4 separate regions of the Homo sapiens genome follow, and regions 2, 3 and 4 are each linked to region 1. The links come from fine-mapping of genetic effects on gene expression. A gene starts in region 1. Each other region holds a variant in brackets. All regions are shown on one strand. Distances are between the middles of the regions.

Evidence for each region.
Region 2: its variant is fine-mapped to the expression of COBLL1 in skeletal muscle (GTEx, PIP 0.95).
Region 3: its variant is fine-mapped to the expression of COBLL1 in thyroid (GTEx, PIP 0.99).
Region 4: its variant is fine-mapped to the expression of COBLL1 in sigmoid colon (GTEx, PIP above 0.99).

The regions. Positions count from the first base shown.
Region 1 is chr2:164,837,917-164,846,026 of GRCh38, forward strand. COBLL1 (cordon-bleu WH2 repeat protein like 1) reads right to left here and starts at 3,907. Exons shown (of 14, transcript NM_001365672.2): 1 at 3,794-3,907; 2 at 3,240-3,330. The coding sequence starts at 3,280. It overlaps LOC101929633 (a long non-coding RNA gene), which reads left to right and starts at 2,833. Exons shown (of 2, transcript NR_110574.1): 1 at 2,833-2,906. RefSeq lists a silencer at 3,881-4,090.
Region 2 is chr2:164,966,175-164,974,284 of GRCh38, forward strand. No RefSeq gene overlaps it. Among named protein-coding and RNA genes, the nearest start is that of SLC38A11, 15 kb to the left of the region's middle. The variant G/T (reference allele first, on the strand shown) is at 4,259.
Region 3 is chr2:164,698,742-164,706,851 of GRCh38, forward strand. It overlaps COBLL1 (cordon-bleu WH2 repeat protein like 1), which reads right to left. Exons shown (of 14, transcript NM_001365672.2): 8 at 6,211-6,364; 9 at 5,703-5,777; 10 at 1,781-2,015; 11 at 664-758. Among named protein-coding and RNA genes, the nearest start is that of SNORA70F, 15 kb to the left of the region's middle. The variant G/A (reference allele first, on the strand shown) is at 4,592.
Region 4 is chr2:165,151,992-165,160,101 of GRCh38, forward strand. It overlaps SCN3A (sodium voltage-gated channel alpha subunit 3), which reads right to left. Exons shown (of 28, transcript NM_006922.4): 10 at 3,771-3,912; 11 at 2,461-2,667. Among named protein-coding and RNA genes, the nearest start is that of SCN3A, 48 kb to the right of the region's middle. The variant C/A (reference allele first, on the strand shown) is at 3,303.

The sequences.
Region 1 (8,110 bases):
TGTGACTGTAGTCTCGGCCATGCAGGAGGCTGAGGTGGGAGGATCACTTGGGCCCAAGAGGTCAAGGTCAGCCTGGGCAACATAGCAAGACTCCAGCCTGTCTCAAAAGAAAGGGATCTAATCTAGAATGGTAAGGGATTAAAGCAGTACAGTAGAGGCCAAAATGAAAGACATTCAAGATGACCACAGGATCAGACCCTTTTAAGGCAGGGACTTCACCAGCACAGACCCTACGGCAGCCACTATTTCTGCACACCATTGCTTCCACTGAAAAGAAAATGACACCCAACCCATATAATTCACAATGTCGTAGAATGCTAAATGCGAGTTAAATGTGTGAAGGCACCAAACAAACTTCAAACTATCCCTTTTGATGTTACAATTATTATTTAGAATGTTTCAAAGAAAAAGCAGCAGCTGAGAGGCCATAAAACAATTTTATTTTCCTAAAATACTCATTCCCTGAATGGGCTAATTTATCATAGAATTAATAAAAGTGAAGATAAGGATATCAACTACATTTTTCCTGAAATGTATTAAAATATTACAGAGTTAATGGTTAAATATAAGTTATCCGTTAAAATGTATAACGTCATGGTATGTTATATCATACCATGGTCAAGAAAAGATAAAAAGCAATTAACAAAATGAACTAGGCACTTGGAGTTTTTCTTCTGGTTTTACTACTAATTTGCTGGGACTTCAACACACTCAGTGTTTCTGAGCTTCAGATTCTCATTTATAAAATGTGGAGAACAAAACTTGGTGCTATGTTAAAATGACATGTTACAACAATGTAAAACTTGGAAAATTACAGAGGAATTCTTTCCAACAGTAATATCCAAGGATAAAGACTAAACTAGGCTTCATTGTCTATTAAAGTAATGAGTTATGATATAATTAGTCAGTTTTATAGCAAGAAATTTATCTCCAAAACCTAACAATTATAACATATTAAGATTTCTGCCTGCCACTTCCCAAATACCCTTATCTAGATATTTTTCCCCCAGTTTAAACCTTTTATAATTTGGGTTTTTGAGAGAGAAGAGAAGCAATACTGAATATTAAATATTCAACAAATCTTATATGACAGGCATTCGGAATATGCCAAAGGACAAGTTAGACAAGTGAAATAAGACAAATGAAGTAGAGAGGTAATTTTTTCATGTTGATATTTTTCAGGTAATGATAACTTCTCTGAGTAGAATAATGTAAGGCAAAATGATAGAACTACTGTGTTATTTTAGATAAGGTGTTGACAGATTTTCCCTACTTAAATTTGAAAAGGGGACGGCAAAAGTCCTTTACAAATGCTTGACAAATTAGATAAGGCTCTTTTGTACTTTCTTTTTAAGCAAAGAACTTATCAGTTTAACCTTTAAATTCTCAAAAGTGGCTGGGCGCACTGGCTCATACTGGTAAACCCAACACTTTGGGAAGCCAAGGTGAGAGGATTGCTTGAAGCCTGGGGTTTCGGATCAACTAGGCAACATAGCAAGACCTTGTCTCTACATTAAAATAAAATATCAAGAGTAAAGTCTGAAGGTTCTTACTACAGTTATGCTTGCCAGCAAAAAGTGTTCTTCTGTTTCTTCAACACAGAGCCATCTGACCTCACCTATTTTACTTAAAAGTCCCCAGTGACTTCTGAACACCCATGGGTGTATTTTGTGAAAGCAGGTATGTTTTTCTTTCTTTTTTGTTTTTTAAAGTACCTTAACCTAATCCATTTCCAAATCCAATTTAATTCTATCTCATTTTGCAATCCCTGAATACATTTCGGTATCCTGACAGCTGTCTCATCGTCAATTCACATAATTTTGCAGCTCCACTTAGGAACCTTGCTTGTATGCTCAATATCTTTCTACCGATATATTTCTTTACTCATCCTAATGTGAGAATATATGTCAGGATATATGAAAATATTTAAGCAATGAAAAACCTGGGGAAAGAAAAGAAATGAAAGTCAACAGTGGGAGTAATATTTGCAGAAAGGAGAAAGTTAATTTGAGCAAAATGAAATAATTAATACACTACATGTTTCCTCTATGTAAAAATTATACTAAATATCTTTTAGATTAGTCATGTTGCTTTGAGACTTTTCCATGTTTCCTCTAGACAGCTGCCAATGTTCGCATGGTCTCTGATGAATAAACATGCTGTGACTTGCTTCTAAGGAAACGCCTGTCATGTTCCAGGGAAAAATGACTTCTACACTCTTAAATCAGGAAAACTGTACAAGTCTCATTCATTAGTGACAACGTCGATTTTTCCTTAACGTTTCTATTTCTGGAATGCTCGTATTCTCATTAGGGCATTTCTGCATTCAGATTAACTAAGAAAATAAACTATGTTGGAGGAACACTTATGCTGGGGGGAAAAATCTTGTACTACATCAAACGAGTTTCCTACTTGAGAAACTCAACTAGCATCCAGGTTACTCCTGAACTATTTACTAAGACCAAGGTTATTTTCAGGTTTTCTTCATCTCTTGCAGAACTACCTGTTCTCATTACTGTTTACTCAAACGCTTAACAAGGTAACTATTAGCATATCTGGCAGGAAGACATGCCTCATTTAATATTAACTCACCATGTGACAGCCCCCTTCCTCTCTTCTCAAACATGTGAGGATAAAAAGAAAAGTAGAGTTGTTTGCAATCTGATTTGCGCTGGGTTTTGGAACCAGCAATTGGCCACAGGCACACACACCCCCAATCAGAGGCGCGCACCCCGCTCGCTCCCGGAACTGTCATGCGGGCTGACAGCTGGCACACCCTCCTGTCGCCCTCCACCCGCCTGCAGAAAGCCCACTCCCTACAGTCACCTTGACATTGCTCACCTGCCTGGGCCTCAGCCCATGACCAAGGAAACTTTTGCCCTCCCTCCCCAGGAGCTCACTTACAGGTATCGTCCACCGCTCCCCCAGAGCCCAAACAAGGGTCCCTTTGTTACAATTTTTGCTCCCGGACTCCTCACCCAATTCCTGGCATTCAGCTGGCCTGTAGCAACCCAGGGCAGCCCCGGTAGGAAGGCAACCAAAAACGACCCGAGCCCTCCGCCCGGGCGGCCTCCGAGAAGGCCGGGAGGAAGCAGCCTCCCCGGCCGCGTGGAGGACAGTCAGTGAGTCAGGCCGCCGGCAGGGCAGCGAGTTGCCAGCCAGGTGAAACGGCCGAGGCCTCGCTGTCCTCGCCGGCCTCGCCCTCCCCGGTGAGAGGCGGCGCGGCGCTCTGGGCTTACCTGGCTGGGGCGTCCTGCGGGCGCGGGGTTCGGCCGTCCATCGCCCTGCGGGGCGCTGCGCGGGCTCCAGCTCCCAGGCGGCGCGTCACTGCTGGGGTGGGAGAGGCCGGCGGGTCAGGGCGGGACGCGCGCCTTCCCGAGGCCGGAGCGAAGCTGGCTGAGCGTCAAGAGCCCGCCCGAGCCGCTCCAGCCCCGGCCGGCCCGCCTCCCGGGTGCGCTTCCACCTGCGGGCCCCGGCTCCCAGCCCGCGGGCGCCGCCGCCGTCTCTACAAGGTCTAGCGGGCGCCCAGAGCACGGCGGAGGAGGCGGTGGCGCTGCAGCCCCCGCCCCGTGGGGTTTACTGGGTAGCCATTTGGCGCCTCTCGGAGGGAGAGGAGCCGCCGGGGCTGGAAAAGGAGGAGGAGCGGGGCCGGGCGCACGGGCACCGCTGCCACGCCGGCAGCGCACTCCCAGGCTCCTCCGGCCGAGTTTGCACAAACAAAACGCCCTAGGAAAACTTTTCCCGAAGAGAAGTTGGGAGGGCTGATCTCTCTTTTCCCACCCAAGGCTCCTACGTTCTTTTCCAAAGGAGACAGTAGCTCGCCTGTTCTCCCTCGCGGCTTCCTCTCCTACTCTTCCCTTCCCCGGCCCGCGCTCTTGCCGCTCGGCTCTCAAGCCAGGACTTGAATGGAGAAGCGGCAACCCCTGCGAGGCTCAGCCCAGCGCGGGCAGGGCCGACTCAGCACCTCCCCTGTCCCGCGGGCGGGGTGCGGGCGCTGGCTGGGCGCTGGGGGCCTCGCTGGAGCCCGCTCTCTCACTCACCCTGCCCCATTTCCCTGCCCGGAGTCCGGGAGCTCGCCGCCGCCTCTGCAGCACGGCCGCACATAAGTGGGGACCAGCTCGGCGGCATTGGAGCGAGGGAAGCAGCGAGCCGGAGAGAGGAACGGGGCGGGGGTGGGCCGGGAGCAAGTTGGAATTTCCTTCCCCCAGGGCTTCGGGTCTTTGGGGTCCGGCTGGGGAAGCTGAACCGAAAGAAAGCTCCCAGACGAGGTGTTCCCATTCCCACCGCTAGGCTGCGCTTCGGGAAGGCTGGTGCGCCTGAACCGGACAGGTGCGGGGGAAGGGAGGTTACCTGCCTTGCCAGGATCCGCGGGGAGGATTGGGGCCTCCGCGGAATGCGGTCAGAAACTCGCAGAGTGGGGCCTGCAGCTTGCCCCCCCTAGAGTCCGACCCTCGACGTCCAGGATCGTTTTTTTAAATTTGTGTTTTTAACTTGACCTTTAAGATTGCCATTCTTTTAAAAGCGCACCTGTGACACAGATCTTTCTAATTGGTGGCAGGTTTAAGCTTGCCCTGTCTTCAGAGGCATTTTTTGTAAAAGCCTATAACAGCTCTGACATGAGAACTGGACAACAGTATGTCTAATGACAGTCTATAAACTAAGAATTAAGTAATAGATTGTATTCACTTATTGGAACTTTTACAAGGGTAAAGGAATCAGACACAGCTGTGTGCTTGTTTGTACGTTTTAGTATCCACGTGCATGCCCTTTAGATGATTCTTTACACCTGACAGACAGGTACTAGGTTGGTGCAAAAGTAACTGCGGTTTTTGCCATTTTTTTTTTTTTTAAAAAGTAATGACAAAACCGCAATTACTTTTGCACCACCCTAATATATTTACATATTTTATATTTTTCATAAGCGCCAATTGTTTTAAGATGCGCGCCATTCTGATGGGCCCAAAAATGTGTTTTCAGAAAACAACGTGACATTAAGAAATGAATTTAAAATTAGAGTTTTAAAAACATATTTGGATTAAACTGATGGAGAGATCTTACAGGAAGGAACATCCTGCAGGGGACTTCTGTTGTAGCACTAACATCAAGTAATAAACCTGTGTTAGCCACTGATAGAATAACATTTGGCAGGTATTACAATTAAATTGATATTAATGCTCCTTTAGTTGGTTATCCATTGCAGCAACAAAAAAAGATTGCTGAACTAAATGCCTAGCAATGTGCCATTTGTCTACCACACGCAGGCATTGGTATTTATTTCTTTCAGTGCATAATGTCCTTTCAGTGCATCTTAAATATGAAAAGAAAAAAACACATGGCTCATTTGGATTACAATACTGGAACCATATTAGAAAAAGTTGCTTTTAGAGATTTTAACTAAGAGTAAAGCAATTTATTTAAATACCTCTGGGTTTTAGTCTTTAAACAATAACTCTGTTTAAACAATTTCATGAATCATTTATGCTTCTGAATACAGAGCTGTGCAAGCTTTTACAGTTGCTTGCACAGACAATGATGCAAATATTGAGTAACAGTGAAACTACTTGAAAGTCCATAACTTTCAATCACAAGACAAGATTAAATCTTTAATTAGTTTCAGCCTTAATTTATGACATACTAGTAATATTATGGACCCTAATACCAGTAAGATTAGGCTAATCTTAGTCATAAAACATTCATAACATTTCGTAACCACTGAAGGCATTTTCAGTGCTTACCACTTTTTGCTGTCCTCCTTCTGGTCCTAGGGAGAACTATATGCTCCACCCCATGGAAATTAGGTATGACCCTGTGACTTTGATAAGTGGAAATGTGAACAGACATGAAATGCTTTATTTCCTGGTGAAATTACTGCCAGTGTTTGAGTCTCTATGTTCCCTTCCTTTGCTACTGCAATCATGAAAGCATGTATTAAAATGAAGGTGACACAAGACTGGAATGCTAAACTATTACCCAGAGCACAGCTGCCCTGGAGAGTCCCAGGACCTACAACAGAATCCACATAAGCAAGAAATAAGCTCATGTTGGGCAAAACCACTTAAGAGCACCACCAAGCTTGGTGGTCTTCACATAATGGTACTAAGCTATCCTCACTGTAGCCAGTGATTAGCAAAATAATAATCACAGATTTGCTATAAATCTTTTTTTTTTTTTTTTTTTTTTTTTTGGAGAAGGAGTCTTGTTCCTGTTGCCCAGGCTGGAGTGCAGTGATGCGATCTCGGCTCACTGCAACCTCCATCTCTGGGGTTCAAGTGATTCTCCTGCCTCAGCCTCCCGAGTAGCTGGGATTACAGGTGACCACCACCACGCCTGGCTAATTTTTATATTTTTAGTAGAGACAAGGTTTCACCATGTTGGCCAGGCTGGTCTCGAACTCCTGGCCTCAGGTGATCTGCCCACCACAGCCTCCCAAAGTGCTGGAATTACAGGCATAAGCCACCATGCCTGGCTGCTATAAATCTTTTCACATAACAGGAGAAAACTGCTGTTTTCCAATCTTTCTAGTTATGCAGAGCTGTTTCAAAATTGCCCACGTTTCCAAGATTGCGCTCAATTTCCCCGTTTGGGAATCTCCCCCTCATTTCACCACCCAGCCGATCATTTTAAGTGCCTAAGCATAGGTATTATCCCCTCAGGAATACTTCCCTCATTGCAGAAATAGAAGTAGCCCTTCCCTTTCTTGGCCCCCAGTAGGTTCTGTTAGGTAGGGCAAGGACCCATGACACTTTGTTTCAGTTATTCATTTACATAATGCAGAGTTGGAGGGGTTTATTCTCTTTTTTTTTTTTTTTTGAGACAGAGTCTCACTGTCACCCAGGCTGGACTGCAGTGGCATGATCTTGGCTCACTGTAACCTCCACCACCCAGGATCAAGTGATTCTCCTGCCTCAGCCTCCCGAATAGCTGGGACTACAGGCATGTGCCACGTGCCCGGCTAATTTTTTATATTTTTAGCAGAGATGGGGTTTTACCATGTTGGCCAGGCTGGTCTTGAACTCCTGACCTTGTGATCCGCCTGCCTCGGCCTCCCAAAGTGCTGGGATTATAGGCGTGAGCCACAGTGCCCAGCCTACTCTTAAAGGACCACGTCTTATCCTTTGTCTCCTGAAAGCATAGCCCAGAACACAGGAGACTCTCCACCAGTATTTGTGTACTGAATAAAGGAATGAAGGAAACCTTCAGGCCTTCCCTCCTCAGAAGAATCCTAAAAGGAACTTGATTCAGGGAAAGACTTCAACTCAAAGGGGCTGGTAGGCCATTTTAAATGGAACAGATGGAAGGTGAGTTTGTCTTACTAGAGAAAGAAGACTTATTCTTCACGTGGTTACCTAATGGGGTTAGTACCAAAATCAATGGGTAGAATGAAGCTAAATGAAGGTCCACTTAGCTATATATCTCTCTGAATAATAATCTAGGTTTCATATTCCTCCTGGATAGTAATAAATGGAAAGGAGGTTTACATGCTTAATAAATACCTGTGTGCTTATATAAAAAGCAGATAGGCATGTTAAAGTGGGCCATAATGGTTGGAGTTTGTCTAAAATTTTTGTAAACTATTTGGAATAATGAAAACATTTTTAAATGCTTATTTTAAGTATGTTTTTATTCCACTATAAGTACCACTTGAAAAGCTTTATTTAAAACTGAAAAATTACACTTAAAAGATGGTTAATATCTTTCTGTGCATTTCACCTTTGCACATTACAACCTAAAGGAAGTGTTTATTTTATGTCTTCTTAGATTGTGTACATGTGTGTGTTTGTGGTTTTATATAACAAGATCAGAGTTGTTACATTTCAGTTTTAATAAAAGTCTTATTTCAGACTTTGTATTTCATAGAAACTGCCCAATCTCAGAAAATATGTTATGTTATTTATGCATAAGACTTTGTTGATGAAAACAGGGAGCTGAAAGTCAGAATTGTAGCTTTATTCTCAATTCAGTAATATATGCATAATAGTTAATTATCCATTCATCTCTGTGTAGTGCTTTCATAATTTGAGTATTCCTACATGTATTAACACATAGAAAGTGTTGTTAGAATTTGATGTTCCCTATATAAATGCTTCATGAGAGCTTTATTTCAAAGTAC
Region 2 (8,110 bases), 130 kb after region 1:
TATGTCTGCACCTTAGCAGAATTCAGGCTCTTCTATCCTCTTAGCCTGGTGGTCTTTCCTTTGCTTTACAAAAGCAGTTGAGTTTATGGGAAGGACTATTATCACTTAAACTGTAAACTAAATGTTTCCCAAAGTTAGCTTCGCCCAAGTCCAGGAATAACTAAGGACAGCTTGAAGGGTTAAGGCAAAAGCTGGGTGGCTAGATCGGATCTCCCCCACTGCCAGTATTTTCTTACTGATACAATTTTTACAAAGGTGGTTTCATAGATATAACATCACTAATCTGAGGCTTTTCAAACATTGAAAGCTCAAGCCAAATGGCCCTTCTCAACTGCCTGTGACAGACCACTGTCTATCTTAGAAGTGTTTAGTAGAAATGTATTAAAAAGATGCTAAGGACACCCAAAAGACTAGCAATTGAAGTTATACATTATCCACTCACATTTCAAAAGGATTATCTACTCATCCTCTATAAGGAGGGGAAAGAATGTGCTAGGTTTCACAAATCAGACCCAATGCTGAAATTGCCCCAGTAACATATCTGAAAGCTCACAGGCTGTGATTAGGAAAACAATGTAGGATCTATTGAATATGCCTACATTTCTCATTTTTGATCATTACTAGTTACCAATAAAGATTGTGTGTGTGGCATTCTATAGATTCTGAAAACAAGATATGTATGCTCTATAGTTTGGAACCAATGTTCATTATAAGTTGACTAACTTGATTAGGTAGAATAAGAGATGTACCAAATGAGTGAAATAGATATATTTGTTGGAGCAATTTAGAGGAAGTAATGATCATAAGAGGGTGGGGTGGGTGGTCAGTGATATTTGATGGAAGGCTGGAAACGTGAAATTTAGCCTAGCAAAAATGAAGTTTAACTTACAAATATAACATCCTGACCTTGAATCTGAAAAACCAACTGTATAGGTGCAAGGTAAGAACATGTGTGTTATCTCCAACTCATTTCTAATACTGCTTTTAATTAACAAGAAGTTTAAATAATGCAACAATTTAATGGGGCTGAGAAAAAAGTCTAACACAGTCAGGTAAAGTACTTGTAATAAATTACACAGAACAAGGATGACAATAATCCAGGCCATCTGTGTTGGTCACACCACACATGGACTATTGTTTTCAGCTCTGGAAGCCACAATTTGAGGAAAGTTACAGATCAACTGGGACATTTACAATTGAGAGGGATCAGAATAATGAGAGGATACTGAGTCTCACAGTGCTTTAAGTAGCCAGAGAATAAAGACTCAGAGGTTGAAAGGCTCACTCAATATAACCAATGGCTTTAAAACCTAATTACTTAGAGATGTCTTGGGATAAACTGAGTGGTAAATTATTACTAGAGATATTTAAACCTGAGCGTGACCACTGGGCAAGGACATTGTAGGGGATGACGAAGGATAGAAAGGATGCTAGGTGTTCTCCTTTGCTTGTGAGTAAACAAAAACCTACTTGAGCTTCTTTAGGAATGGGGAAAGTGGTGATTAGAAAAATTTTTGTAATGAATCTAGGACTAGAAAATTTGTCAAGATTCCAAGTATCCCTAGATTTTTCTTTTCTCTGTCTGTCATGGCCAGCGTGATCTTTTTCTCATGGAATCTTAGCTTTTATCTGTAGGGCTACTTCATTATTCTCTTGCAACTGACTGGTTAGTCACTGAGTTCTCTGGGGAAAATTCCAGAACAAGTGAGTCTGACAGGCTTAGCTACATACCTTTGCCTCCACTGAGCACAGCTTGTTGAACCACACCTCCTCCTAGGAGGCTGCCAGCTGTTAAAAGATAAACTTAAGCACATTAACATTTTAAAGAGTTTATTTGAGCAGACAGTGATTCATGAATTCACAGTGCCAAACCACAACCAGGTTGGGCTCCACTGAAGGGGAATAACGGAAAAAGTTTTATTAGGTGTTCTCGGAAGCAAGACAAAGAAAACATTTGATTGGCTAAAGTAGGCTTAAAGTCCCTAGTTAGAGGTTAGTTGGCAGTTTCTGATTGGTTAAGCTTAAGTTCATTTTCCTAGGCTATGACCATTCCCTCTGAGTTGGGTTTGAGTTCGCATGTAGGAACTCAGGGGACTAGAGCCACCTCAGTTTGATGGTTTCCCAATTAATTATTTTAACACGGCCTAGGGATGAGCTCTTCTTGGGCTAGTTACCAATCCCTTATCCAGTCAATGGGCCATTGTGCCAGCTACAGTGGCTTCCCTACAAAGCAGTAGGGAGTGAGAATGAAGAAAACAGCTTGAGCTAAAGGTGGGTTTGAGCAGTGGCCTGCAGTATGGTTCATACACATGGAAACACTAGATGGCATTAAAATTCCTCTACCACTTGTAATTCCTCTATTCCATGATGCTAGTGTTACCGGAGGGTCTTTGTATTTAGAACTCCCACGTTGGTGGCGGCTGCTCCCAAGATGGCGGCAAGCCTTTTGTTCTCTGACCTGGGGTTCTTGGCCTCATGGATTCCAAGGAATGGAACCTTGGGCCATGCGGTGAGTGTTATAGCTCTATTAGAAGCTGTGGGTCACGGAAGAGAACCGTGGAACCCAGCCACTAGTGTTCAGCTCGATTAGGATGAACCCAGGCACTTAGCCATGCAGGAACAATGGCAAGCCTCTAGCCCGATCGGGAGCAGCATTGGGTGCCTCTCTGGATCAGAAGTGCAGCAGACATCCTTCCAGATTCGGAGGAGTGGAAGTCAGCGGCAGGTCTGCGATAGTGGCGATCAGCAGTGGTGGACGGGGAGCATAAGCTCAGCTCGAGCTGGAACAAACACAGACCAGAAGAGTGTGCAGTTGCAAGATTTAATAGAGTGAAAACAGCTCCCATACAACGGGAGGGGACCAAAGGGGTTTCCCAATCCGGCTTGAATGCCTGAGTTTATATCCTGATCATTGTCCCTCCCCCTGTGCATTTAGGTGATAGATGATTTGACTATTTCTTTTTTCACCGAATTGGTATTTTAGTGAGCTCTCTTTACTACCTAATGGGTCGGGTGTGAGCTGAGTTACAAGCCTCGTGTTTAAAGGTGGGTGTGGTCATCTTCCCCAGCTAGGCTTAGGAATTCTTAGTTGGCCTAGGAAATCCAGCTAGTCCTGTCTCTCACTAGTAGGATTAGAATTCGACCTTATCATTAAAAATGAGATAAGGAGAGGGTATTAGTCCGATCTCATGCTGCTAGGAAGAAATACCCAAGACTGGGTAATTTATAAAGAAAAGAGATTTAATTGACTCACAGTTCCACATGGCTGGGGAGGCCTCAGGAAACTTACAATCATGGCGGAAGGGACCTCTTTACAGGGCGGCAGGAGAGAGATGTGCCAGCAGAGGAAATGCCAGACACTTATAAAACTATTAGATCTCGTAAGAACTCACTCACTATCACAAGAACAGCATGGGGGAAACCACCCCAGGATTCAATCACTTCCCATCAGGTCCCTCCCATGACATGTGGGGATTATGAGGATTACAATTCAAGATAAGATTTGGGTGGGGACAAAAAGCCTAACCATTTCAGGGAGAATATGACAATTCCTGATATGGAGAATAAGAAACATGTATCACTGGGGTAAATAAAATAGTAAGGAGAAAGGAGTTTTTGGAATCAAATAAAGGTAGATTCTGATTAGTTTTATTATCATTTCTCATTACTTTTTAGTTTATAATATTGTCTTTTATTACATGCTTTCCTTCTGTTAACTTTGGGGGTACCACGGGCCTATTGCTAGACAAACAGTAGCAAAGGTGCACAATTTGCAAAGATGTAAAATATATTTTTGAGATATGAAGCACTATGAATGTTTCATGAGTTAAAAATAATATGTCATAGTAAGTGGCTTCATTCTTATTAGCGGTTGATTTCTCTATATCATCCATGTGAGAAAATGAAGTGAAAGCAAGAATGCAACAATGCATGTTTCCCCCTTGATTTCTTGGTATCTCTACCTTTTAAAAAAATTTTACAGAATACATTTGTTTTTAATTTCAGTTCATCTTTCTTTTACCCCTTCCTTAGCTGTGTTCCTTTCTCAAAGTTCTTGCAATCTACTTCTTACTCACATGAGACCCTAAGGTATTTTCTAAAAAATGTCAGTATGAACAAAGTGACCACTTGCCATAGGAGCTCAGCCTGACTTTTAAAAGAAGTTTTAAAATAGCATGGGTAAGAATCATATGAATCCATTTAGATTTGTTATAAATACTACTACCTTTTTCAACTCAATGTCCAAAAGGACCTTCAT[G/T]CCCCTAAGGGCTAGAAAAGGAAAAACTCAGACAGCAGCCACATTCCCATGACCTTGCTTTGCAGGGGCCTGACCCAGATGTGGTGGGAAGCACAGGACAGCAAATCTCTTGCTGAATCTTTTTATGCATGAGGTTGGCCTGGCCTTAAACGTCCCTACTACAATGACTTAAAAAATGGTGATTAAATAATGTAAAACATATTGCCAATAAAATGTAAATTATCTAAAGGAAAGAAGCTACAGACTGAAAGATTGGAAATGTTTAAAAGTAGCAAAATCCAAACCAAACCGTAAGAAGACAGTGTGGAGTGTGTGTGTGTGTGTGTGTGTGTGTGTGTGTGTGTGTGTGTTGTAAGAATCAGGTGGTGTGTCCTACTGAAAAGCCTGTGCATTTTACCAATTGGTGCCTTTTGGGGAAAATAAGAGCAATCTAACAAGTCTAATGCATACACGCATATGTGCACACACACACACTCACACAGAATTTAAATGCCGGAGAAGAGCGAAAATAAACCATGTACACTGTTCCCTTTAGCTTAAATAGCCAGTGGCTATCAAGGCACCATAACTCCTTTTAGATTCAGGTACACGGAAAAAAAACCTTTTCATTTGTATATTTTTCTATGCCCTAGTTAGAAGAAATATTTTCCTCTTAGAAATTCCTTTTGAAATAATTTTCTATTCCACAGCAAACTCTGGAATTATTACTGTTCCATTATTCATTTGTTATAGGTTCTGTTTTGGTTCAAATTATCTCTAGTTACTTTTCTGTTAAGCTACTAACTGACATTATTTGAATCTGATAAGATTCAAAGGAGGCAACTTAATTCCTTCAGTGATTTCAGTGATAATAAAAATATTCACAAGAAACATGGTCTTTAGTAGTTAAAGGGTTAATAATACATATGCATGATACCAAGTTCTGGTCCTTCACGAAACAGGAAGTCCGGGTTCCAGGATCAGTATTGTGAAGAGCTCAGATCTTCTGGGTTGGTCAATTGGGCTACACAGTATCTCTGGAGAGTGGCATTTGGGGTCCAGAAAATGGTGCAAACATTTAAAAACTTTTTCATCATGTCACCAGCTAGCCCAAATAGAACCTGTCTCAGATGGAAATCTAGGAATTTCTTTTTCTTTCTTTGCTAGCTTCCTTTTTCACCCCTTCCATCCATCAATTTCCTCAATCTATCCTTTCTTCCTCTTTCTTCCCAGAGACTGGATTCCATTTTGGATGGAGTGGTATTGAGTCTTTACTATTTCATGTCAGGAGATTTAGGTCCTTATCACTGTGCTCAGTGGAACAAGGAAAGGCTGATGCTTCTTAACACTATTAACTGCTACTTATGTATTTACATGTGCACAGTTTCTATTTGCTCTTCTTAAAACACCTTCCTCACCATTTTAATTTGTAACATCTCCCCCTCCCCACATACATCCTTCAAAGCAAGGAGCACGAGCATCTGCAGTTTTACGAAATTAATTGACTGAGATGGTGGCGGCGTCAAGTTTTTTTTTTAGGCAATCCAATTGGAACCAGAGAGGAGGAGAGTGAGGGTGATTGGTGGTGTTACTTGTTTGTCTGGAAGTTGCACTAGCATAGCAAACATATTGTAATTAAGACACTACTTTTTTTCTCTCTCACTTTTCCCTTTAAAATTTATTCAATGGGGAAACGTTTTCCTGCTACTGAATGACATTTCCAACAGCCCCCATGACCACTAGGCAATAGAGTCAGAGGGTCTCAATTTAGTAATTAAAGCTTTGCAGAGAAGCAGGTGGGAACCTGCAGTCTGGGAGGCAGTGGGAAGGCTGGTTGGCTTCGCATCTCTTACTTGACCCCCTGCCCTCCTCATTTTTGCCGAACTCAGATTTTGGCAGCTCTGGCATTTGAAAGTCTGGGAAAAGCCTCTCTTTCAAGTTCATACATGACTGATATTACTGTAAGCAGACTTCTTAAAAGATGAAAGTGTTCCCTTTCTCTTGTGAACTGATTTCATGGGTTCTGAAAATCCCTCTGACATCGCTGGTGGTTTCTCAACTCAAATTCCTGTCATTACCTCAAAGGTTGTTTAATTCCTCCGAAGCTCCTGGAAATCTTCAGAAAACTGAAGCACTGCACATTTTATTTATTTATTTATTTGTTTACTTTTGAGATGGAGTCTCTCTCTGTTGCTCAGGCTGGAGTGCAATGGCACGATCTCTGCTCACTGCAACTTCCACCTCCCGGGTTCAAGTGATTCTCCCGCCTCAGCCTGCCAAGTAGCTGGGATTACAGGCACCCACCAGCAGGCCTGGCTAAGTTTTGTATTTTTGTAGAGATGGGGTTTCACCATGTTGGCCAAACTGGTCTTGAACTCCTGACCTCAGGTGATCCACCCGCCTCGGCCTCCAAAGTGCTGGGATTACAGGTGTGAGCCATTGCACCCAGCCAGCACTGCACATTTTAAGTGTATGTTCTATGCGTTTTGAGAAAGGTACACATGCATGTAACCATCTTGCTAATCAGGATATAGACTATTTCCATCACCCCCAAGGAGTTCCCTTTTGCACTTTGCAGTCCGTCAATCTTCCTCTACCCCTTAGCTCAGACAACCACAAATCTACTTTTTTCCATTATAGATTAGATTTTCCTGTTATAAATTTTTATGCAAATAAAATAATATACGAAATACTCATTTGTGTCTGGCTTCATTAACATAGGATAATGATTTTGAGATTATTCATGTCAATCAGTGTTATCATTCATTGATTTATTTCATTGTTGGATGGTATCCCATTAAATTGATATACCACAATTTGTTCATCAATTTACTTACATGTTTTTGAGTTGTTTCCAGTTTTTAGCTATGATGAATAAAGCTGCTGTGAACATTCATGTACAAGTCTTCGTGTAGAAAATTGTTTTCTCTTGGTAAATACTTAGTGGTATTATTGGGTAGTATAGTAAATATATGTTTAGCTTTACAAAGTGCTGCACCATTTTAATCTCCCACTAGCAATGTATGAGTGTTCCAGCTGCTCCACATTTTTCTCAATATTTAATACTGACAACTTAAACTATTAGACAATCCAGTGGATATATAGTGATATCTCATTTAGATTTTAATTTGCAATTCACTAATGATATACTATTGAGCATCAGATCTTTCATATTGTACTTTAAAACTATTTTGCTAAGACACATACCCAGCATATGGAAGACCCTCAATAAATATTTATTGAATTTATACAAATTGAACACAGAAAATGCAGCTCATCAGAGGATTTGAGCTAATTTCCTGGCATTTATGAAATACTGAGCAAGTTGTCAAATGAGAGCACTTAAGCTAATTCTCAAGTATTTAAAAGAAAGTGTACATCCTCATCTGTCTACCAAATATGGTCTCCAGGCAATTTGCTCAAGGTCAAATAGTGGTGGAACAATGATTAGAAACTACACTTTGTCGTCCTCAATTTAATTCTCTCTATATTTGACTCAGGATAAATGTGAAACATTGATTTTTCATATCATTTTATTGAATGTATGTTTTATTCAATTACTGTTTTGCCACAGTATCTCTCCCTGTTCATTATTAAAAACTTCAGCTCTTGATAAAAACCTAATCATCACCTAAAATGTATTTCCTTTCATAAAAATGTATTTCAAGTTCCAGATACTTGATTAACAAATGAACCTTTAAATAAGTGTTTATTTGGGGAAACTAACATATTAGGTAGCAACTTTGTTTCCCATCTTATTATTTTATAAACAATTAAAGGTTAACCAATTCAAAGGTGAATTGCCTTAAATAAGAAGTGATCTATGTATTAACTCTGAGGCCTGTAATTGCATTTAGCTGTAACTCAAATGAG
Region 3 (8,110 bases), 140 kb before region 1:
CGCAAAGCTTCTAATAATCAAGTAAAAACATGAAATGATATGATTTGGATAAAAATTGAATGGGTAAAATAGATGAAAAATTGTCTTTCAGACAAAGACAACATGAATATATGCCTTATGATATAGAAATAAGCAAATGACATCATGAGAAAAAATAAGTTGTGCTAATATGAGGATGGGAACTGGGAAACAGTGGTAAATAAGGTTATATTATTAGATGATTTGGGCCTTGAAAAATCAGGCAGAAAAGTTTCATCCAAGGAAGTTAGATGGAAAAAAAGAGAAACAGATCGCAAATAGATACACAGAAGAAACATTTTTAAGATCCAAAGTCTAAATTAGATAATTTCTATGTTTTAACAACAAAAGTAGTACACATGGTAGTTAAGGGCACACTCTAGAGCAATATTGCCCCAGTTTAAATCCTAGGTTCACCACTTACCGTAGTAGTTGTGAGACCTCAGGTGAGTTATTTAATATCTCTGTGGCACAATCATCTGTAAAATGGAACTAAAAATAATAGTACCCATAATATCCATAAATGAGGTAGGTATTAAGTGAGTTACAGGAGATTAAATGAGTTAATACATATAAAGTGTTAAGAACTGTCCTTGGCACATAATAAAAGTAAGAAAGTGTTGGCTATTAATTTATATAACTCACCATTCTCTTGGTTTGGGCCCAACGACTTCAAGTTTCTTATACTGTCAACTACCTTCTTTCCATTGCTTGTATCATATACTACACTGTGTGGTTCTCTGGAAGATACGACATTGTATGTTATATGTTGATACTATTGAAACACACACATACACACACACACAGACACACACACACACAATGAGAAACAGGCAATAATTTCCAAAGACAGATGGACTAAAATAATCATTTATTTCTGCCAAACATCGGAAATTTAATAGCAGAGAAAAAATATAACTGAGAAGAAATGCTGCTATGAAACATTAGCTTTCATGTGGTGGTCCCATTAAAAAGAAAGAAGCTTGGTAAAATAGACACTTTTCCAAAATAGTGGCTTTATTTTGCTATTATCATTTATTTGCCTTTTAAAGAAAAAGGAAATTAAATGAAACATTTTAGTTTTTCATCTGGCAAGGTCAACTATATAAATAAGAATGTAGATTGACCTCACTGATCTTTTTTTCCCTTTGGTGGTAGAATAGTTTAATAAGGAGACAATCTCATGCAAATTATAATAAACGTCTGACATATATGGTTTATTTTGCTTGGTTGATTTCATCTTTATCCATGTTGTTGCATTTCAAACCTAAGTGGACTAGACTATAGCTGTCTGTTTCTAGAATAAAGCAGAAAGTACATTCTCTGTTTCATAAAGTTGACTGCAAAGATAATACTCGTGATTTAACATCATATTCTAATATGCATAATTGTTTTCATATACCAGTGAAAATCCACCAGGAATACTTGGTAAAAATTGAAAATTAAATATTACATATAGGTCACATAGGTTAACAGGCAAAACACCCACAAAAAGAAAAATTTTCATTTTTGAATCACACAAACTATTTCTCATGGTTTATCTGACACAGGGATATTAGAACTGTCACATTTGATTTTCTTTGAATGTAATTACATGCAAATAAGTACTTCATTAATAAACATTCTTATATAATGGTAAAAAGGATAAAGTCAAAACCAAAGGGCTGACTATATTTATGTTTAAAATATCAGATCTATATTTCAGAAGACTAGTATTAATTAAACTAACGGCCACCAACACTCCAGCACAGAGACTACTTACTGTCCATCTGTGCTTTTAGTTTCTTGTTTTTCTTCCATGGAGTTTTGTGAGAACTCTCCACTACCATTGCCAAGGGCTGAGTCAGGATCATTTTTCAGTGTATTTATTATATCAGTAGATACAAAAGGAATATCTTGTGACTTCGGAGAAATATTTTCAGCTTCAACTTTAGGCACTTCACTCAGTTCTTCCTTTTCATCTATCTCTTCAAGGCTATAATCAGAGCTTATTCCAGCTACAAAGAAATGCAGATATAATCCTAAATATTAATTTGCCTCATTCATCACATGCAATTCTGGCAAGGAAGGAATTTTGAAAAATAATAATTAGCTGGACTCTTTTAAATTCTGCCTCAAAAATAATAGTGAAGTTCTTTCTCCTGGTGAGCAGTCACGTTAACATAAAACCAGATTATCTCAGACTCATAATTCCCAAAACAATTTGCTATCACTCTAGGTTTTATTCATGGTAGAGACAAGAGGTTATTTAATCTCATAAACTTTAAGTTAAATATTTCATTTAAGAAATGTCTTACAATTGAATGGTTTTTACACTCATCCAGCAACTCAATAGTGCAAATTAAAGGCAAATTAATAATTTTAAAAGTGAAAATGAAAAGCACATGAGATTTTTGTATTGTCTACAAGGGCACTCATAAAATTTGACTCAATAGTTATTAGTACCAACTATACTTGAGAATTACCTGAGCCCCCTTTAAAAATATTGAGGCTCACACCCTACTCCACAAAATCAGAATCTCTGAAGGGTGGGGCAAGGGATTTTTAAGACTACTTAGATGATTCTACTATGCAACCTCAGTTAAAAGCCACTGACCTAGATGCTTAATTTGTGAAAATACAAATAGAGCAAGTATTGGACAATGAAAATTAAGTTTTATTCCTAACCAGTTTGATTCTCAGAGGCAACTTGCTTTAACAGTTTTTCCTGTATGTCCTGAGAAAGTGTAATATACATACATAGGCTGATAACCATACTCACGTTTCCTTTTGTTAGTTTATTTAATATAAATGGAAGCATACTGTAGCCACCTAGCTTTTTTTCCACTTACAATATCTTAAATATCATCCATATTAATATATATGTTTACACATAAATATTTTCAATAGCTGTGGTTAACATTTCACTGTATAAAAAAAATGTATTTTATCACCAACAACCAGTAGCCAGCAGGGTAAAAGAGAAGGAGGCATCCTGAGCAGTTAATGTTCATGCTTATTGTCAAGATTAGCCATGGAAGTAAATGTAAGCCAGAGTGAGGTTCTGGATTTTTGCTAAATATAATTAAACATTTCCATATACACCACAGTATCTGAATGAAATTTAATTTTATCCCAAGGCTGGGGATGTGGTGGGAGGGGGGGGCGGGGTGGGGAGGTGGTGTAGCATCCAATTATAGTAATCAGCACATTCAGAAAATTTAATTTAAATTTTTAACATAATTCAATATTTAAAGTACTTAAAATATATTTTTAAAATTTTATCTCTAAGTATACAGACAGAAAAGTGTGCTATTTGTGCTCTTTGAGAAATAAACATGAGAAATTTTAATGGTATTTTTATCATTAATAAAAATAGATTACTCAATAAAAAATATTTTAAAATTTAGGTTTAAGTGAATATTCAAATGTACATATTTTGGCAAATGATGCTTTATTATGATGTGAAATAGAAATAATGTGTCTACGATAGCATATTGTATCTATGTGTTAAGAACGTATTTATATAATTTGAAAACTCTAGGCTGGGCGTGGTGGCTCACGCCTGTAATCCCAGCACTTTGGGAGGCTGAGGAGGGCGGATCACAAGGTCAGGAGATCGAGACCATCCTGGCCAACATAGTGAAACCCCGTCTCTACTAAAAATACAAAAAAATTAGCCAGGTGTGGTGGCGGGCGCCTGTAGTCCCAGCTACTCAGCAAGCTGAGGCGGGAGAATGGCGTGAACCCAGGAGGTGGAGCTTGCAGTGAGCCGAGATCACGCCACTGCACTCCAGCCTGGGCAACAGTGAGACTCCTCAAAAAAAAAAAAAAAAAAATAATAATAATAATAATTTGAAAACTCTGTATTGAAAAAAAATGAAAGGCCATGATGGTTTAGATACAAATGTGTTTTTTAATTTTTATTATAAGGTCTTGCTTTGTCACCCAGGCTGGAGTTCAGTGGCATGATCATAGCTCACTGCTGTCTCAAAATTCAGGGCTCAAGCAATCTTCCACCTCAGCCTCATGAGTAGCTGGTATTTTAAGTGTGAGCCACCATGCCCAGCCTCAATTGTGTTTTCAAAGTGACCCCTCAGTATATATAAGCCAAATAGAAGAGAAGCTAAAATTCTTCGGAACCACTGATTTTATTTAACTAATCCACTCTGTTGTATTCATCTGTATGGTTGGGAAAAACAACAAACTCTACACCCAGATAAAATTTCAAGTGAAAAAGGGGAAACTTCTCTTTCTTTATAAAATATGTTTACACAAGGTTTCAATAGCTCATCAAATTTACAGTCGATGATATCTTAACCTGCCTGACACAAAGCACCAGCCAGGAAAGGCCTGACCACCTACATGTCAATGATGTTATGGCTGCCTCAGGTGTCCCAGGGCACTCAAAGACAGAGGTTTCCTCCATCAGTTTGGGCGCAGTGCACTGCTCCTGACTGGAAAGCCCAGGGTGAAAGGTTTCTGCCAAAGAAGTAGAATCTGTAGAAATGGCACTTAGACAACAGAGTTAAGGCAAGCAGAGACCAAGAAGCATTTTGGAAGAAATCAGATTTGTTAGCTCACAATTATCCAT[G/A]CATTAAATAAGAAGAGGTAAAAGGAAAAAAACAAATGAAGAAAAACAGATATGAAGCAAAGTTTGAATAGCATGCACTCCTTTTTATAATATTTCAGTGACTTCTAATTTCACTCAACAGTTGTAATTGTTATTATTCAATACATTTCCTTTGTGGAAAAAAATGGTGCCATTTATATTATTCTGAGTAAAAGCTGAGAAAAATCATTACTAGTTATCTGAGAGTAAGATTTAAAATCACAGAGGAGTGAAGAATTCTTACATATATATGCTAAAATTCCAAATTCTTAAATACCACTTAAAGATGAAAGATTCAAGAGTGTTCCTCCTAAATGTTTCCTGTATTTGGAATATAAATTATAAAAATCAGGCGAGTCATATTAAGCATTTTTTATACTTACAGAATTATCCCCATGATAAAGTCCTAGCATAATCATATTCTATTTTTGGTATGATATTACTAGTCTATCACATTCATTGATGTCTAATAGTAACTCTAAAGATTAAAACATTTTTATCATACTTCTTAGAAAAGCTACTAAGTAGCTATTATTAAAAACACTGGAAAAGTATTACTATAAATTATGTAACTTGTAATGGAATTTTGTTTGGAAAGAATCCTAGAGGAGAGCCATATACTGCAACAGAAAACATTTTCATGGTAACAGATTTTTACCATTAGAGTAGGGTAACTTGTATGTTGAGTTCATACCTAGAACAGTTGCATCAAGAAATTGTGCTTACACTTTCCTGTAAGTTTTCTTCTGCACACACCAAGGTACATTCCTAATTACGGTGTGTCATTACACTTGGGAAGGAGGTTAATAAATGTTAACCTGATACTGCATAAAGGAAAGCAGGAGACCACATAGAAAAAGTACTCAAGGACAATTCCAGAACTGAAATTTTGATCTCTGCCAGCTTCATACTCTAATTGGGTTGAGGGGCAGAGGGGTGGGGGCAAGAATTTATTTCATAATAAAAATTTGGGAAATGAGGCCAAAGAATCTGTATCTCTTTCATGTACAAAGCATCGCAAATGGACTCATTTCTCAATTATCATGGACGTCCTTTTTCAGTAATTACACCATGTAGAATAAGGGTGTCATACCTGGGCTGGATAGCTCCTCAGGAGAGTTTGCTTCTGAAGCACTGTCTGGAGGAACTCCATCTACTGGCTGTAAGGCTAAAGGAAAGAAGCAACACAACTTATAAAGTCATATTCACAAATAAAACAATTCCTTAACAGTTTAACTTAGTTATATAGTTCAGAAAGCAGTAAGCCTTGCTAGAAGCCATTTTACTATCTAGCTGTAAAACACTAAAATCCACTTAGACTCCCTTTTCTACATACAGCTAATCCTGAAATGGCAGCATCTTTCTGAATAAATTCACAGATTATGACATGCTCATCTTAGGATAATGGAGCTGTATAATTTTGACACTTTATTTGGTGATGTTTCAGATTTTTAAACGGCAGCAAAGTGAGACTAATCAAGATGTATTTAAAAAGCCTAAGTATTATTTAAAAAGCATAACTTACATACCCATATCTTTCCTACTGTCCATATTAAACAAAACACAATACAAATGTAATGTTAATGAAACAACCACATTACCAGTCACACGACTATTTTCATCACTTTGATGCGGGGGTATTTTGGAGGGTGGGGAAGGTGCTTTTCGCTTTGTCCTTCTCAAAGATGAATTCCCTGCAGACATGCTGCTGAGCTGCAGTGAACCTGCCCTCACTCTTCCTGCTTCACAGGGACTCTGGAAAACAAAATGACCAAATAAAATCCTACATTTAGAAATCAGTAGCAAACTTTAGGAAGACACTGAACTTTACGTCAAGCACAGGATATATCCAAATGGAACATAACAGTCATTCCTTAAAAACGTTTATGAAGCATCTGCCACACACAGAAGCTGGGCTATGGGATAGATATGTAAAGAAAAATAAAATACGGCCTTTCTCAAGAAACTTGGGCTAGAATGGGAAACTGCCACACAAACAACTAACTGTAATGTAGAGGACTCATAAGTAACAGAGTTAAAACCTAACTTTTAAAGAAAAATCTGGAGACATTAAAAGGAAGGGATGAAAAAGGGAACATTATTTGTATAGTAGTATTTGGCTTGATTAAATCTACCTCTTTACAGCTGCAGTGTTTCAGTGAGGAACACTGCAAAAATCTATATGTCTACCTGAGGCCAGGTCCTTCAAGGTCACCTACTGCAAAGAGCTACTGCTCACACTCCTAGCCCGTGACTGTCAGCAGACCCTAAGACATCCTCCTTCAGCAGGGGTCAGTGCCTCCTGACCAAATGCCATGTCATCTTTGCTCTTTGCCTTTACCAAGAATGAATGAATGAATGAATGAACGAATAAATAACTATTTAAAAGAGTTGTTCAGGTGGCTCACACCTGTAATTCCAAAGTGTGGCTCACACACTTTGGAAGGCCAAGGTGGGCAGACCACCTGAGGTAAAGAGTTCGAGACCAGCCTGGCCAACGTAGTGAAAGCCCGTCTCTACTAAAAATAAAAAAATTAGCCAGGCGTGGTGGCATGTGCCTGTAATCCCAGCTACTCGGGAGGCTAAGGCAGGAGAATCGCTTGAATCCCAGAGGCGGAGGTGGCAGTGAGCCAAGATTGCGCCATTGCACTCGAGCCTGGGCGACAAGAGTGAAACTCCATCTTGAAAAAATGAATAAATAAACAAAAGAGTTGTTTGCAGTTTGTGTCTCCAATTTCTCTTATCCCACTTGAATCCTTTCAATGATACTTTTCCCAGCCTTTGATCCATTAAAAGGATTCCTATCAAAGTCACCAAAGACCTTGACTATGAAGAAATCTGTGGCCACTTCTCAGAACTCACTTATGAGACCTATTAGCAACATTAAACAAAGCTGACCACCCTCCTAAAATACATTATTTTTCTTCCAGGAGACCACATTTCTTACTCTCTATAGATCCGTACTCTCTGGCTACTCAGTTTTCTGTGTCTGCTTCTCTTCATCTCCTGATCAACACTGGTGTGACACAGAGTGTGGTCTGTGAACACATTCCATTTAGTATCTCTGCTCCCTCTCCAGAGGATCTCATCTATTCTCTTTATGTATTATTTGCATGCTGATGAATTCCAAATCCACGTCTCTATCTTGGACCTCTGTTCTGATCTCCCCTTAATGTCTGAAGCCTCTTCAATTTAGCATGTCTAAAACTGAGATCATGATGATTCCTCTTTATCCCTCTGCCACATCCTATTCTCACAGCCTTCCCTGTCTTAGTAAAGAACAAGTCATCCTTCCATTCACCCTCATCTTGTATCTGTCACATCTCACACTGAGTCAACCCTTTTTTCCCTTCCCTTAGAAGACATCCAACATCCAGCTTAACTGCTACTATGTTGTCTGACTCATCATTAGGAAGTACCTAATTAGACTCCATCTCCACATTGTTTCCCTATAGTCCTTCAACATAGCAGCAAAAAGAATCTGCTATCTTTAAATAAGAT
Region 4 (8,110 bases), 310 kb after region 1:
CTGCCTAACAAATTTTCAAATGTTTAAAGATACAAAAGGATCAAACTGTGTAAACAACATAACTATGTCCCGAAACAAAGATCAATAATTTTTATGGGAATACAAAAATATCCAGCACTTAAAAAAAGTAAAATTGACAGTGTCTGGAATTCAATTGAAGATTGTCAGGAACATAAAACTGCAGGAATATGTGACCCATAATAAAGAGAAAAATTAATCAAAACTGACCAAGAAGTGACACAGATGTTCAAATTAGCAGACAGGGAACTTAAACAGTTGTTATAACTGTATTGTGTATGTTCACAATGTTAATTAGAGATATATGAAATATAAAAAAGACACAGATCAAGCTTGCAGAGGTGAAAACTACAATGTTTCAGATGACAAATACACTGGATGAAATTAGCGGCAGATTAAATGTTCAAAAGAAAAGATAATTGACTTGAAGACAGCAATAGAAATCATTCAAATTGCAATTGACAAATGGAGTTTAAAACTCATATAGAGTCTTTGCTATTGTGAATAGTGCCGCAATAAACATACGTGTGCATGTGTCTTTATAGCAGCATGATTTATATTCCTTTGAGTATATATCCAGTAATGGGATGGCTGGGTTAAATGGTATTTCTAGTTCTAGATACCTGAGGAATCGCCACACTGTCTTCCACAATGGTTGAACTAGTTTACAGTCCCACCAACAGTGTAAAAGTGTTCTTATTTCTCCACATCCTCTCCAGCACCTGTTGTTTCCTGACTTTTTAATGATCGCCATTCTAACTGGTGGGTGGGGGAGGTGGGAAGGATAGCATTAGGAGGTATACCTAATGTAAATGACGAGTTAATGGGTGCAGCACACCAACATGGCACATGTATGCATATGTAACAAACCTGCATGTTGTGCACATGTACCCTAGAACTTAAAGTATAATAAAAAATATATATATATGAAACTTAGAAAAAAAACTCATACAGAACTACAAGGGACATAAAACAGCCAAAACAGCTTTGAAAAAAAAAAAAAAGAACAAAAAGTTGGGGACCTGCACTATGTTATTTCAAGACTCGTCATAAAAGGTACAGGAATTAAGAGAGTGTGGTACTGGTATAAAAATGACAAATAAACTAAACAGAATAGAGTTCAGAAATAGACAAACTCACCTATGGACAACTAATAATTGACAAAAGTTCAAAGGCAATGCAGTGGAGAATGAATATTTTGTTTTTATGCAGTTGGAATAATTAGATACTCATTTTAAAAAAGTGAATCTCAACATATCACTCATATGTTATACAAAAATTAACTAAAATGGGTTATTTACCTAAATATAAAGCATAAAACTAACTTAAGAAGAAAATTTAGAAGAAAATACTCATGGTGTTGACTTGGCAAAAATTTCTTAGATCCAAAAGAATGATTTAAACAAAAAAGCTAAGAAATAATACTCTGGATAAACTGCACTTTAAATATTTGAGAAGCATATATGTGATATAGGACTTACATCCCAAAGAGTCAAAGAATGCTCAAAACTCAATAATATGAAATCAAACAACCTAACTAAAAAAAAAGGAGGGGATTAAAGATTTGAACAACCACTTCATAAAAGAAGCTATACAGATGGAAAATAAGAACAGAAAAAGGTGCTCAACATTAGTAATTAGGAAAATGAAAATCAAAACAGAAATGAGATACTTATTAGAATGGCTAAAATTAAAAAGACTGGCCATACCAAATGTTGGCAAAAATATTGAGAAATTATAATTCTAACTGGCATGAATCAGATTTTTACTATATATTCGTGAGTCTTCACCTTTCAGTATATGGATTTTTTTTTCTGTCTTTTAATACAGTACTGTGTTTCCGTCTCTTCTCCTCAACACATTAATGTCCCATTCACTATACCCCTAGCTCACACAGCCTTTAATATTAATAAAAATCTCAAGTTGGCATCTAACTTTAGATACCTTCCTGATATCCTGATGTGGGCTATAGCAAACATTTTTTTTTTTTTTTTTTTTTGCTACAGAAATCCCAAAGAATTGTTAAGCATAGGTATATATAAAGTCTCTTGTCAACCTTTAAAATCAATTAACTTCAGAACAAAATCTCAAATGTCATAATTAGGGGTGAATCACTAATAATTGGAAATATCAGTTTTATTTCTTTTCTAAATTAAATAAAAAATTAAATTCCTCTCTTAGGTTCTATGAGACAATTCCATAGTAAACCTTATCTCTAATGTATTTTCTATCCGCTAGCTGATTTCTTTATATACAGTGGCTAAAAAGTTTGTTAGACTCTAACTTCAGAAACAAGTTCATATTTGAATACTTTTTTTTCTAATGACAATGCCTATATATAAAATGAAAAAGCAGTTCCAATCTACCCTCTATAGTATAACACTATTTCTACTTAGAAACTAATAATAATAATGATAAATCTTTGCTTTTATCACTCAGTACCTGAGCTTCTTCCTGTTGCTTTTTAAGCTGTTCGAGCATCTGCTGAAATTCGGCCTCTTTTTGTTCTGCTTCTTCCAAGGTGGCCTGATTCTGCTCCTCATAGGCCATGGCCACCACAGCCAGGATCAAATTCACCAAATAAAATGAGCCCAAGAAAATGACCAGGACAAAAAATATCATGTATGTTTTCCCAGCAGCACGTAATGTCTAGGGGAAATGGGGGATAATTCCATCAGTATTTTAGTATAATGTCCCCAAATAAATATCTGATTACCACAGTTAGATAGTCAGTAGACTAATTAGCTTTTTAGTATCCAGTTTATTTTCACCAAGAATTTTTTGGTATTGATATGCTCAACACACAAAATTAAGAATCAGATTATTTGAGGCTTGACTGCAGTCTTGTTGGATATAAATACATTTTAAACTCATATATAGTGGATATATATGTGAGCCCCACTATAATGCTTTTATTAGAGTTCATATGCAGAGCAATAATATGACAAGTAAGAGCACTGAACCTTTAAATCCTTTCAGTGGGATTCCATTTGCACTGCAGCTATTCTCCATACCATCTATAGATGACTTTTGCTCCCCTCCCCTTCTAGTCTCAGTTAATAGCTAGAGCTTTAATTTGAAATTTTCACATCAACATCACTGATTTTTAAAATCTTTTAACGTGCTGTTTATATACCAACAACTGGATTATCAACTTCTAAGAGTCATGAGCATCTCCAAGTTCCTAGCAGAATGCCTTTCACATAAAAAAGTCCTCAGTGTACATATATAGGTACTGACTCAGTGAGCAATTAGGATTCCTGGCACACTTGCTTTATGTTGGA[C/A]CTTCCTCTGTGTTCCAGAGTGTTATAAGCAGGTCCTTTCCCTTCCCTTCCCTTCCATTCCCTTCTCTCCCTTTCCCTTTCCCTTTCCTTTTCCCATTCCCTTTCCCTTTCCCTTTCTTTTTTTGAGATGGGGTCTTACTCTGTCATCTAGGCTGGAGTGCAATGATATGATCTCGACTCACTGCAACCTCCACCTCCTGGGCTTGGGTGATCCTCCCACCTCAGACTCCCTTGTAGCTAGGGCTACAGATGGGCGCCACCATGCTGGGCTAATTTTTGTATTTTGGTAGAGATGGGGTTTTGCCATGTTGTTCAGGCTGGTCTCGAATTCCTGGACTCAAGTGATCCATCCGCCTCTGCCTCCCAAAGTGCTAGGGTTACAGGCATGAGCCACCACACCCAGCCTATGCTTTTCATTTCATACATGTCTATAAAAATAAATGTTATGCATGCTCATTTGGACCTTACCAACTGGTAAAGATTTTCCCAGTAGTCTTGAGTCATGAGTCGAAATAGAGACAGGAAAGCCCAGCTAAAGGTGTCAAAGCTTGTGTAGCCATAGTTGGGGTTTCGACCAGCCTTCACACAGATGTATCCTTCTGGACACTGGCTATAAGAGAGAGAAATGGAGGTAGGGTCAGTTTAGAAATTACAGCAATTTCAATTTATTTGACTTATAGGAATTTTCAAAACCCAAAGCTGCTATCTGTGACGAATTATCTTGCTTTAATTTCCAGAACACTTTAGGTGATTGCCCACCGTGAAACTTATCAGATGAAATTCACTAGGAAGACCGATAGAAAATTTAGATGCAAATAAATATTTACGGACATTTAGAATGGCAGAAAGCTAGCAACCACACACTTTTGGCTCTGACATTACCATATTTCTACTCTTTACAAAGTGGCAAGAATCAATAGTTAAAAATTAAGGCCGGGTGCAGTGGCTCACGCCTGTAATCCCAGCACTTTGGGAGGCCAAGGCGGGCGGATCATAAGGTCAGGAGATCGAGACTATCCTGGCTAACACAGTGAAACTCCATCTCTACTAAAAATACAAAAAAAAAACAATTAGCTGGGCGTTGTGGTGGGTGCCTGTAGTCCCAGCTACTCGGGAGGCTGAGGCAGGAGAATGGCGTGAACCCGGGAGGTGGAGCTTGCAGTGAGCCGATATTGTGCCATTGCACTCCAGCCTGGGTGACAGAGCGAGACTCTGACTCAAAAAAAAAAAAAAAAAAAAAAAAAAAAAAAAAAAAAAAAATTAAAAGCCAGAAAACAGACAAAGAGTGGGGAATCAACCATTTCATTAGCTGGTTTTGTAGAATTTTCTAAAATAAAGTTAATATTTATAACAATTTTTTATTTACAGAAAAAGTATGAGGATAGTACAGGCTTCATACATTCCATGCCATTTTCAATATTGATATATTGTTATTATTTAATTGAGATGGGATCTTGCTACGCTGCCCAGGCTGGTCTGAAACTTCTGGGCTCAAGCAATCTCCTGCCTTGGCCTCCTGAAGTACTGGGATTACAGGTGCGAGCCACCGCACCCAGCCTTAATACATTATTATTACCTAAAGTTACTATTTTATTCAGATTTCATCAGTTTTTTTCTTTTTTTTTGTTTTGTTTTGAGATGTAGTCTCGTTCTGTCGCCCAAGCTGGAGTGCAGTGGTGCAATCTCGGCTCAATGCAAGCTCCGCCTCCCAGGTTCACACCATTCTCCTGCCTCAGCCTCCCAAATAGCTGGGACTACAGGTGCCTGCCATCACGCCCAGCTAATTTTTTGTATTTTTAGTGGAGACAGGGTTTCACAGTGTTAGCCAGGATGGTCTCCATCTCCTGACCTCGTGATCCGCCTGCCTCGGCCTCCCAAAGTGCTGGGATTACAGGCGAGAGCCACCGTGCCCAGCCCTCAGTTTTTTTCTTAATGTCCTTTTTTTGTTCCAGGATCCCATTCAGGATACACATCGCATTTAGTAGTTATGTCTTTTTAGGCTCCTCTTGGCTGTGACAATCTCTCAGACTTCCCTTGTTTTTGATGACCACAACAGTTTTGAGGATTACTGGTCAGATATTTTATAGAATACCCTTCAATTGGGATTTGTCTAATGTTTGTCTCATGATTATATTTAGGTTATGGATTTTTGGGTGGAAGACTACAGAGGTAAAATGTCACTGTCATCACATCACATCATGCCAAGGGTACATACTTATCACTCACTATGACTTATCACTCTTGATGTTAACTTTCACCACCTGTCTTGAGGTAGTGTTAGGTTTCTCTACTGTAAATTTACTCCCTTTTCTTCCTTTTCCATATGTGCTCTTTGAAATAAAGTCACTGTGTACAGACCACATTTAAGGAACCCGCAGTTATGATCTTAAGTATATACCAAAATTATTTGAAATTATTCTGCATAGGATATTTGTCCATTCATATTTTATTTAATTATTCAATCATTTCAATTAACATGTAGTCATGGATAGTCATTTTATATTTTGGATTACAATTCAATGATATTTCATTTATTTGTTCAAATGGCTTCATCTTTGGCCACTGGAAGCTCTTTCAGTTGACACCTGTAACAGTTTGACATACACCATGGTTGTGGGTTGCATTTTTTTTTGTTTTTTAACACTTTCTTAGTTTTAGGTACTATCAGATGCTCCAGGCTCATCTTTTATAATTTCTGCCGCAGTCCTAGAATCAACCATTTCTCCAAGGAGCCCTAGTTCTTTTTATTGGAAAATGGTATTAGAAACCAAGATCTGAGTGCTAGCTGTGTTTGTTGCTACTGGGGTGTCATTGCTTCTAGGCCCTCTCAGCTGACAGAACAAGGAGATACACATGTTTGTAATTGCTCAGTACTGGTACACATGCACAGTGGTTTCAGGATTGTTAATCTATACTACCATTGGAAACAACTTTATCAACTAGGGTATTGTTCCTTTTACCTTTAGTCTTACAGACTCCACTCATTTCCAAAGTTACTTAGGTTAGCATGTTATTACCCCACCACCTACAGTGAGGTCATTTCATATTTTGCAATACATGTATATATTTTTGTCACATATTCCATTTCTTCCTGGGATCCCCAAACCTCACAAAAGATTTTTTTTTTAATTTGTATATATTAAGATTCACTCTTTGTGTTATAAAGGTCTATGAGTTTTAACAAATGCATTAAGTTTCATATTCACCATTATAGAATCTTAGAGAACAGGTTCTCACCCTAAAAAAAAATCCCCTTTGCTTTACCTAGATAATCCCTCACCATGAACCCCTGGAAAACACTATTTTCTTATCATCTCTGTTGCTTTGTGTTTTCTAGAATGTCAGGTAATTGAAATCATACAGTATGTAGCTTTTTGAGGTTGGCTTTTTCTCACTTAGAAATGTGCATTTAATATTCATTAATATTTGTTTGTATCTTGATAGCTCATTTCTTTTTAATCACTCAGTAATATTTTATTGTATGGGCATAACAATTTATTTATCTATACAACTATTGAAGGACATCTTGGTTGCTTCCAGTTTGGGGTCATTGAAGGGCATCTTGGTTACTTCCAGTTTGGGGTCATTATGAATACAGCTGCTATAAATATTCACATGCAGGTTTTTTGTGAAGACATAAGTTTTCAAATTGATCAGCTAAATACCTAGAAGTGCAGTTGTTGGATCATATGGTAAGACTATGTTTATTTTGTAAGAAACCGCCAAACTGTCTTCCAAGGCGGTTGTCTAGTTTTGCATTCCCACCAGCAATAAGCAAGAGTTCCTGTTATTCTGCATCCTCATCAGAAGTTGGTATTGCCAGATACATTTTTCAGTCATTCTAACAGATGTGCAGTGGTAACTCCTTGTTGTTTTAGTTTGCAATTCCCTAATGACAAATGATGTCGAGTGCCTTTTTACCTCCTTAATAACCACCTGTACTATATACTCGTGTGGGGTATCTGTTCAGATCTTTTGCCAGTTTTAAATTGGGTCATTTGTTTTCTTATTGTTGAGTTTTAAGAGTTCTTTAGATATTCTGGACACTGGTTTGTTGTTTTGTTTTGTTTTGTTTTCTTTTGAGACAGGGTATAATTCTGTTGCCCAGGCTATAGTGCAGTGGTCTGATCATGGCTCACTGCAGCCTCGACCTCCCAGGCTCAAGTAATCCTTCTGCCTCAGCCTCCTGAGTAGCTGGTACCACAGATACACTACACCATGCCTGGCTAATTTTTTTATTTTTATTTTTTGGAGAAACAGTGTCTCCCTATGCTGCCCAGGCCAGTCTCAAACTCTTGGGCTCAAATGATCTTCCCCTCTCAGCTTCCCAAAGTGCTGGATTACAGGAATGAGCTACTTCACCTAGCCCCAGTCTTTTTTTTTTTTTTTTTAAATCAGATATGTGCTTTGCAAATATTGTCTTCCAGTTGCTGGTTTGTCTTTTCATTCTCTTAAGAATATCTTTGTAAAACAGCAGCTTTTAATTTTAATAAAATACAAATCATTTATTTCTTTAATGGAATGTGCCGCTTAAATACAAAATGGTTTTGTATTTAAAACTCATCACCTGGCTCACTCCTGTAATCCCAGCACTTTGGGAGGCCGAGGCGGGCGGATCACGAGGTCAGGAGATTGAGACCATCCTGGCTAACATGGTGAAACCTGGTATCTATTAAGAATACAAAATTAGCCGGGCGTGGTGGCGGGCGCCTGTGGTCCCAGCTACTCGGGAGGCTGAGGCAGGAGAATAGCTTGAACCCGGGAGGCGGAACTTGCAGTGAGCCGAGATCGCGCCACTGCACTCCAGC